2 linked regions of the Homo sapiens genome follow. The protein of the gene in region 2 purifies or fractionates together with the protein of the main gene of each other region. This does not show direct contact. Each region holds a gene or a part of one and is shown on either strand. Other genes may lie near its edges.

What was found.
Region 1: the proteins of NAT8L (region 2) and FAT3 purify together in Homo sapiens (affinity purification with mass spectrometry, with the first as the bait; one large-scale study listed by BioGRID). This does not show direct contact.

What each region holds. Positions count from the first base shown.
Region 1 is NC_000011.10:92,797,139-92,802,269, reverse strand, and holds part of FAT3 (protocadherin Fat 3 isoform 1 precursor), read right to left. Parts: intron 4,435-5,131; coding exon 361-4,434; intron 1-360.
Region 2 is NC_000004.12:2,061,755-2,066,885, reverse strand, and holds part of NAT8L (N-acetylaspartate synthetase), read right to left. Parts: intron 3,127-5,131; coding exon 2,759-3,126; 3' UTR 1-2,758. UniProt on the Homo sapiens protein: Catalyzes the synthesis of N-acetylaspartate acid (NAA) from L-aspartate and acetyl-CoA. Promotes dopamine uptake by regulating TNF-alpha expression. Attenuates methamphetamine-induced inhibition of dopamine uptake.

The DNA of each region.
Region 1 (5,131 bases), on a different chromosome or scaffold from region 2:
TAGAAAAAAGGAACATGCTTAAAAACAGAACCTCTCCACCAAAAAGTTGTTATTTTCATTCCTTCAACTGAGATATTTGGCTGGACTCCTTTTTAAATAGGAAGAGGTGACACAAAGACTAGTTACCAATATGGTTAACACATTTACAGCAAACCTGTGAACTCCAAACTAAGGCTGAGTTAGCAACAGCCAACAAGCAAAAAACGCAGTCTGCTCAGAGATCCTTTACTCAGCTCCAGAGAGGCTTCATTACACTGGACTCCTTATCCCATCTTCCTTCTCTCTTACTCTTCTCCCCGCCATCTTCCATCTTTCTTTATAAAGCAGTGCACATAATGAAAACTGGGGGTATTTACTCACCTGTAATATGGTAGCTCACTTGGCGATTAACGTCGGATGTGTCTCTGTCCCAGGTGCTGAGGACGGCTACCACCTCGCCCGGTGGGTCGCTCTCCTTCACATTCCCTCGGTACACTTCCTGCGCGAAGACTGGTGCATTGTCATTTATATCTGTCACTCTGACAGAGACCAAGGCCGTGGAGGAAAGAGAGAATGCCTCTCCAAGGTCAGAGGCCACCACAGAGAAGGTGAATGTGGGGTCTGTCTCGTGATCTAGGTCCTTCAAGGTACTGATCCAGCCCGTGTTGCTGTCAATATTGAATGCTTCCATTACCTTTTCGGGCTGGGAATCCGAGTGGAGGGAGTAAGTGACTTGTCCATTGGCTCCCCAGTCCATATCAATAGCTCTCACTTGTGTGAGTTTGGTGCCAACAGGCATCCCTTCCATTATAATGGTGTCATAGCTTGAAGTTTCAAAGACTGGCTTGTTGTCATTCAAATCCAATACCTTGATATCTACATCCACAGTAAACACAATGTCTACTTTGTCCAGGGGTATAGTGGCTGCTACTTTAAAGTGGAAAGCTGGGCTGGTTTCACGGTCAAGGCGTTTGTCAAGCTTAATAGTGCCTGTTTCCTGTTCTATGACGAATATGCCCCCTTTGTTATTTTCTGGCCGTTCCCCATTAACTGTGCTGAACCAGACATTCTGACTGGGCAAAATCCTCAGGGTGTCCACTGTACTCCCAATGGCTGTATCTTCTGCAATGGTAAAGGAATACTGAGACTGGGTGAATGATGGCAAGAACGTTTCAGGGGGCAAGACGTGGATATAGACAGGAATGAGGGAGTGCTTTACTGGGATGCCCCCATCTACTGCTTTGACAAAGAACGAAAGCACTGTATTTTTCAGCTGGTTAAAATTACCCTTTGTGACCATCCAGCCATTGTCAGGATCGATTTCCAGGAGGTCGGCCACTGAAACAGAGGCCTCGCTATAGAGGGAATAAGTAATCCTTGAATTTGCTCCATCATCGGGATCTATGGCTTGAACTTGAGTGACCAAGTGGCCCCTTCCAACATCTGCCCTGACACTGGCTCTATATTCCACTGTCATGAACTGGGGAGCATTGTCATTTTCATCCACAACAATCACTCTCACAGTGCAGAAAGTTGTTCTCCCTCCACCATCAAGGGCCCTCACAAAAATACTAACATCCCCTTCTAGAGGGTTTTCCCGGTCTAGCCTTTCTGTGGTGATGACCTGCCCATTGCTGTCTATGAGGAATCGATCCTTGGCAAAGTCATTGATGATGGCATAGCTGATCTGCCCATAAGTCCCTGGATCACCATCTGTGGCTCGAACATGAATTACCTTTGTTCCTGCAGCCACGTTCTCTCTCACCTCAGCTACGTATGTGCTTTGTGAAAAGGCAGGGCTGTACAAGTTAGCCCCAAGTACCCTAATATGCACCTGTGCAGTGCTGGTGAACAACCCATCAGAGACAGACACATTGAGACTGTACAGAGGCTCCATCCGCTGCTTCCGATGGTTGGACAATGTGATAACTCCACTCTTGCTGTCCATCAGAAAGCTCGTCCGGTCATTCCCAGATAAAATGCTATATTCCAACCGGTCAAAATCAGAGCTGTCTGCATCAGAGGCTTGTACACAGGTTACAAAATGGCCCCGGGGGGCTAATTCACTCACATATGACTCATAAATGAGCTGATTAAAAACTGGAGGGTTGTCATTTACATCAGAGATGTAGATATGAACGAGAACCTCACTGCTCAGTGATGGGAAGCCACTATCTATTGATCTGACTTTCAAAGTGCAGTGTTGTACTAACTCATGGTCCAGCATTCGTGCTGTCAGGATTAAGCCACTTGAGCTATCTATGTGAAAATAATCTGTGCTATTGTAGGTATCCTGGACAATCTGATAATGTACCATTTTATTGTTTTCTGAGTCTGCATCAATAGAGACAACTTGTAAAACAGGTGTCCCAATAAGAGATGCTTCTGATAGTGTTGTATTGTATGTAGGCTGATCGAAAATAGGGGGGTTGTCATTTACATCATTAACTAGCAAGTCAACAGTGACTTCAGCCCTAGCACCAGTAAGGGCGTCGCTGGCTCTTATTGTCAGCTTGTAAGCAGATGTAACTTCATAATCCAAAGGGCTAACAACTTTCAGGACCCCAGTGTCAAAGTCAATGTTAAACTGTTTAAAAGGGTCCCCATCGATAATGATATATATGATGCCTTGGCCTTCTGGACTGGTGGCATTGATGCTTAGGATGGGTGTGTTCATTCTGATGTCTTCATTGACAGATGCTGTATAAAAGGGCTTATCAAACACAGGCATTGCTTTGTTGACAATAGTGATGGGAAGCTCCACAGATGTAGACAAAGAAGGTTTTCCGCCATCCTTGGCTAGGATGGTGACTCCATACTCAATGTTGGACAAGTCAGAGTTGAATGCTTCCTTTAAAATAACATTCCCTGAATTAGGGTTAATTTCAAAGTGGCCATAGTCATCCTGCAGGACATAGGTCACTTCTCCATTTGGACCTTTATCTTTGTCAATGGCTGTCACCTGATAAATCAGAGTCCCGGGTTCCGCATCCACTTGAACAGCAGCATAGTATGGGAGGCCCACAAAGACTGGAGAATTGTCATTTATGTCTTCAATGTTAACCCTGACCACCACTCTGGCCACACGCAGATGGTCCAGCTCACGGCTGGCTTCTACCACCAGCTCATATAACTCTTGTTCTTCACGGTCAAAGGGGACTCCAGTCGTCTGAATGACCCCTGAGGTAGATTTTATCTTGAACTTATTTCCTGGGTTTAAGATGCTGTATTTTAAGGGCTCATTAAGGCGATTTCCAACTGCATTGACAATAGCAACTTTGGTTATGTTAGTGTTGTTCTCTGAGATTGAGGTGGAATAGAAGCTTTGTGTAAAGTGGAGGCCGCTGTCCATGGCTTCTTTAACCATGATGGTGACCATGGAGGTACTGTAGAACTTTCCATCAGACACCTTAACTATCAGCATGTAGTGATCCTTGGAGAGGTTGTTGTTTTTTATGGTAAGTACTCCACTGTTTGAGTCAATTAAAAAATGATCCAAACTGCCTTCCATTAGGCTGTATGTCAGTTCAGGGGGTACCTCAGAGTCAGGATCTGTGGCACTAACTTTCAGAACCTCCACTCCAACATAGGTAGGTAGAAGTAAGATAGTCTCAAACACAGCCTGAGTAAAAACAGGTGGGTTATCATTCACATCTGTCACCTCAATGTTGACTTCAACGGGACTCTCTGCAGTCAGTTGGGGGCTACCACTGTCTCTCACATGCACATGAAAATGGAAATGGGCAATGGTTTCATGGTCCAGGTTGGCAATTGTTCTGATTGCACCTGTACTGGAGTCCACCGTGAAAAACTTTTTTGCTGTTGACTCCACAATCTGATACACAAGCAGAGCATTCCGGTTGCTGTCAGCATCTGTGGCTCGAATCACCAGTGGGCTGTTATCCAAGCTCCTGACAATGCTATTAATTGGGGCAGCCTCACTTAGGCTGCCTGAGTATTGAGAAAAGAGAAAAACTGGGGCATTATCATTTTCATCAACAATCTGAATATTGACTGTAGCATTGGAAGCCATTCCTGCCATATTGGTGGCCTGAATGATGAGTTGATAAGAGGATGTGCGCTCATAATCCAGGGCCTTCTGAGTGGTGATGACTCCAGAATATGGATTTATGGTAAAGATCCCATTAATGTCTCCATCTTTGACTTCATAAATGAGGGTAGATTGACTGATGGCAGAGATTAGAATGACTGATGTTCCAATGTCAACATTTTCATTTACTTCTGCTTGGTAGTCTTTGTGAATGAACTTGGGGTGAGAATTGTCAGACATGGTGACGGAAATGCGCACAATTGCAGTAGCAGACATTGGCGGGGATCCCTGATCTGTGACTTTGATGGATAGGACAAACTGACCCATCGTCGTCATGTCTGGTTCTTTGCAAATGGTGATGATGCCTAGGACCGGTTCGATCTTAAACATGTTCCCAGTGTTCCCTAAAATACAGAAATCAATGGTGAAATGAGTTACATGTGGGTCACTGAAATCTTTTTGATTAACTCTTTATCTATAGGTACCTTACTGCAATGTGGCAAGTAGAAAGCAATTATAGTACTCATCTGTGTCATTCTGAAATAAAATGAGAGGCTTCTCTTTCAGGGGTACTGAAAAGGAACCAAAATGAGTTTCCCAGTATTATAGTAAATTTCAGATCAGTAACTTCTAGATCCAGGTTAAAAACACAATGACAATGACACAGTCTTATGTGCATTCAAGTTGGGAAATAAGAGAGCCCGAAGGAGAGATCTTTCTGCTAAGAATGTATAGGACTTCCTTATTTCCAGCCTTGTGAGAAGACAGATAGATTGGGAAGCCCACATATGAATGCCACTGGTTTAGGTAGCAGTGTCATATTTTCTGTTCTAGGTTTAAAGAAAGAGGGTTGTGGGAATAGTTTCAGAGCATTATAAAGTAGTCAGTTGTTTTCTGATTATCCCAAAAGCAAACTTCGCTACATGGAATTGGTATTATTTCACCCTATCAAAAATGACTTTATCCAAAACACTACTTTGGTGAAGGGGTTTGTTCAGTCAGGTGTGGAGAATTCTTGGCAAGTCATTATTTGCCTTGTAAGTGTGATGAATTTTCCTGACTTCTCTTCTATTCTCCACTCATGCTCTACCCCTCTCTCAT
Region 2 (5,131 bases):
GCCTTCCACGCCCCCCACTCCAAAAACAGAGGCTTCCAAACACACAGAAATCCCAGGAGCCCCAGGCCCCTGAGCAGTGCTAGGGCCCGGCCTGGCTTTCCCCGGGCCTCACCACGCAGAGTTTGAGTGGTGGGTGCCCATGGGGAGCGGGCAGGGGGCCAGCACTCGGGGAAGCCGCACCAGCCACGTGACAGCAGGGCCCAGGAGGGCGCTTCAGAGGTAGAAGAAGTTACATCAGAGTTTCTACAAACGTATAAAATTCACGTCAGTGCACATGTGCAGAGCAGTGAGATCCCAGGCTGGAGGGATGAGGTGGGCCAGGTCAGGCCCACCCACCAGGCACCCGGCCTCCAGCCCCGGGGGAGGACACACCTACCCCCCAGTGGCCTTCAAGGGCGCCACCAAGCTACACATTGGCCTGGCAAGGGTTCCGGGCAGCTCCGCCCCAGCCTGGCAGGCACACCAGTGCCTCTGCTCACCTCAGGGGCGGCAGGGTTCTGCACACAACCACCCCGCACACCCTTCCTGCCATCTCTACCAAGTCCTGGCAGCAACAAAAAAGGCCAAGCGTCTCACCACCCACAGGGCAGTGCAGCCAAGGAAGAGGTCACTCACGGGCGCAGATGCCACCAGAATGAGAGAAGGCCACACTGCCCAGGACTCTCAGAACCCCCAGGAGGGGGATCTGCTAGGATCAATATCAAGGAGACACTGGCAGTCCCTGGGCCTCCAGGCCCTGCCCTGGCGTCGGTGGGCTCCAACAGCCACCCCCAAGCACCCTGCACCCCAGGAGCCCGAGGCTCCAAAGGCACAGGACCAAGGGACGCTGGCAGCACCCCGACATGACACCCCCAAGACCTGACTCCACCTGGCCCGCCCTGCCCCTCCTGCCCCCAGCATGCCCCGCACCAACTGGGACCAGCCCCAGGCCAAACCCAAACCAAACCAAAAGAGGAAAAAGGCACAACTGTTTGTTTCCATTTTGCTAAAACACTTTACGTCTGTCTGTATATTCCAGATTAACAAAATCTGAGCTGCAAGAAAATAGGGTGCCGATTTCTGTACAGTCTACAAAACTCCCATCCCCAAGCGGGGACCGGGCACCTCCAGGGAGGAATGTACAGGGGAGTGGGGTCTGTACAGTGCTCTGCACACCTCAATTGCTAACAGGACAAAAGGCCCTTGGACGCAGGGCTTCTCTGTCCCTTCGCTCGCTTCTGAAGCGCCTCGTGAGAAGCATCCCTCCATGGCCCTGCACGTGGCCTTGATGCCTGGGACCCAGTTCCGTGGCCCACCCTGCCTGCCACGACCCCTCCCCAATTCCCCCACACAAAGGGGTCTGGGCAAGTGTTTATTCTTCTCCTGCCACCAAAGCCAGGTCCACTTCTAAGCTGAATGTGCAGCCTGTGCCACCCTCCACCTCTGTCTCCCCTTCCAGGCCACCCCCCCCGCCCCCCGTCCAGGGCAGCCCCTGCCTGTGACCTCAGGAAGGAGAGACCAGGAGCATGGCCAGCGGAAGCCGAGGCGGCCACCCCTCTTCCCACCCAGCCCAAGGCAGCGCCCTGCCCCTCCTCCCGGAGGCTGCGGACTCCCTTGCCCCCCACCCTGCCCACACTGCAGGCCAGGGCTGGGAGGCGTGCTCCATGGCAGGAAATGACATCCAATCAGGGTTTCCCTCCAGGTTTCCAACAGCAAAACGCTCCACCCACCCGGCCACCCACCCCCATCACACTGGGCCAGAAACTGTGTCTTAGGGTACAAACTACCGTTTTGTCCCAAGAATTAAAGTCATGCAGAGTGCTATTCTGTCTAAATAACTTATTAGAAAATGTGTTGGTTTCAGGCTGGGAGAAGCTGTGGGCTGGGCGCTGTTGGCAGCAGCCTGGGCTGATAAGATTCACAGGGTGGACCGTCAGCCAGAGGCAGGAGGTCCCCGGGGACATCTGGGAGAGGCCAGCACGATCCAGTGGGCACTGGGGAGAGGGGTCCCATGGACCCCCACCCTGGCTGTGCCACGGACGCCATGGGAGTCACCTGGGTGATGACACCAGTCAGCACAGCCCAGGCAGGGGAGGGGCCGGAGCCAGAGAAATGGAGGGCGTCAGAGCAAAGCAGGTGTGGACAGAGCCGGGCGGCGCGGGGCAGACCAGGCCCTCCAGGAGGTGGGGGCAGGGGCAGGCCCTCCCACAGCCAGCTGGGGGCTGGGGACAGGGGCGCTCACCAGCCCGGGTCTCCGGGTCCAGTCTGGGCAGGGCGGCAGGGCGGGGCTGTGTGCATGCGGCATGCTCAGCCGGGCCACACCCTCGGCATGCGCGGAGCAAAGCAGCGCCGTGGCCAGCTGGGGCCTCCACAGGCAGTGGCGCTGGGGCCGCAGGCGGGGCCGGAGCCTGGCCCCGGGATCTGCTGCAGAGGTTCTGTGCTTGGTGAGCAAGGCTGGGCCTTCCCCAGTGGCGGCGGGCAGGGCAGCGTCATGGACAGCCGCGGTGGTCCAAGATGCCACTCTTCAGGTGGCAAGCCGCCCAGGCAGGTGGGGAAGGGCGAGGGGCTATGGCGACAAACAACCCACCCCCACCAAAGTGTCGCCGAAGAACAACAGCCCCGCACCCCCCGGAACCAGCCAGACAACCGCAGGATGTTGAAAAGGGGAAACCCAACACAAACGCCAATTGAGCGTCTGAAAGCAGGCCGCGCCGGGCGGCGGGCAGGCGGGCAAAGGCGGACAGGGCGGCCGGGGGGGCGGGCGGGCGAGCGGCGGCGGTCACTCCTCGCGCAGCTGCAGGCGGTAGCGGTGGTAGCGGACCTGGAAGAAGAGGCGCTCAGCCAGCGAGAGGGTCATGCCCGGCAGCACGTAGTGGTCACTGGCGCCCATGTGTCTGAAGCCCAGCGACTCGTAGAGCTTGTGGGCGGCCACCTTGACGGCCGTCGTGCCCAGCACCACCGCGGAGTAGTTGTGCACCACGGCGAACTCCAGCACCTTCCGGCCCAGCGCCTTGGCGATGCCCTTGCCTCGGAAACGTGAGTCCACAGACATCCGCAGCAGCTCCACCGTGTTGTCCTCCTCGTGGGCCCGTGCAGCCACAATGCCCACCACGTTGCCATCCAGCACGGCCACCCAGAAGCAGGAGCCTGCAGGGGATAGGGCGGTCAGGGACACCCGGTGAGGAAGGCTGGGGAGACCCCTCCACCTCTGGGGTGAGACAGGGCCCTTGGCACTGCCCCCTCCAGCTGGACACCAAGCCAGGGCAGTGGGACACCCAATCCCGGCAGCCCCCGGGGCCTAGCTACCAGCTCTGCTGGAGCCAAGGGAGGGGGCAGCCACTATTCAGGACAAGCAGGTAGAGCCCCCCTCCAGAGCTCCTTAAGCAGAGAAAGCCAGCCCAACACCTGTTACCCAACAGGCCAACAGCCAGGACCCACTCAAGCCTGGAGGCTGCGCTGCTCAGAGTAGTGGTCAAAGGCCCGAGTCCCTCCTCTGAGACCAAGAGCTGGGGCAGGCTTTGCCCAGTCAGGCCGCTGCCCTCTGCCCAGCTACTCCCAGACCAAATGCCTTGATGGCCCGGGCCACCCTGAACAGGCCATGGTGCAGCCAAACTGCTGTGGCTTCTGGCCACCCAGGGTCACCCGGGCCATCACGGCAAACTCCAGCACCCACAGCAGAGGGCCGCAAAGGGCAGGGGTCAGCAAAGTGCGTCCAGAAGGCTCCCTGCAGCCCAGGAGGAGCTTTCCTATAAATCCAAGTGGGGGACAGGGGATGGCCCCTCTGGCCCCGGCCTCTCCTGGCAGTAGGCCAAGTGGCCAGGCCATCACCCCATCCACAGCACGGCCCAATTCTCACCTCGAGTCAGGCACGAAGCCAGGAGGTGGCGGTCGTGGGGGAGGGGAACCGGCAGGGGAGGAGGAGAGGTGCAGGGGCAGGTTGGGGCGGTTGTGGGAGGGAACCTGCAGGCACTGGCCACAGGGGAAGCCCAGCCACCTCCAGCAGCCAAAGGCAGAGGTGGCACCCAGAGACCTCTCTGAAGACCAAGGGTTTGGCCAGTGGAGGGCCACACAGCCTGCCTGTGGCCCATCCAGCCTCCTACTCAAGGAGGCTCTGCACCTGCCCCGAGCCCCGGGAAGCCCTCCCATCCCTCCCCATTGCCCCTCTGCACAGCCACCAGCCTGCTGGCTCCATGAAGGGGACCTCTGTCTCCTTCACTGCTGGACACTGAGGCCTGGCAGGCAGCTAAAGGGGTACTGAAGGCCCTTCAAGGAGAAGCAGCGTGGGGGGGAGCCACTGGGCACCGCTGCCATCGCCACAGACACGAGCAGCTGGGCCCTCCAAGCTTTGTGCAGCTCCAGGGTTCCCAGGAGGGCTGCCCCTCCTCGGCCCCCTGTCCTGGAGCCCCTGGGGTCTCCCACACCCAACCCCCCATCTCCCTACCCACACAGCATCTCTACCTCCAAGGAGGGGATCCTGGACCAGTATCCCTCCCACCAGCTGGCCTGCCCACCACCCAGGGGTTCTGCCTCTACCTACCCAGGCAAGACGAGAGATCAGGGCCATCCCAGAAGTAGCAACCCCCAGCACCATGTGGCCCTGGGCACACCTCACTCCTCCCAAGACTCGGTTTCCCCATGTGCACAAGCAGCTCCCAGAATCCACCACGGGCCATCAGCAGCTATCCAGCCTCTGCCCTCGTGGGGTGTTCCTGCAGCCCTGCCAGCTACCCCTCCACTCCCTCACACCAGGGAGGCCACGGCCCAGAGGGAGCAGGGCCATGCCCCGTGTGCCCACCGGAGCCCCCTGTGTTGCTGTGGCCTGTGCTTCCTCATGGCCCGTTTCCCCTCCCAAGCAGAGGCTGGCCAGGGCTCAGGGGCTGCTCAGATGCTCTGTTTGGGTTTAGGAAAGGGTCAGGGAGAGCAGCAGGCACCAAGGCCGTGGCGCGGGGGTGGAGCATGGCAGCCAGCGGTGCCAGACACTGCCCCTCCCCTGACACTGACCGGGCTCCTGACAGACCCTGCCCAACCCTTTGGGCCACACTCTGTCCCTCTCGTTGGCCTACAGACGCTCCAGGATCGCAGAGAGCCTCCCACCCCAGAGAGCAGAGTCTTCACCCCTGCGGCATCCGGCATGGGGGAACCGGTGTGGCTC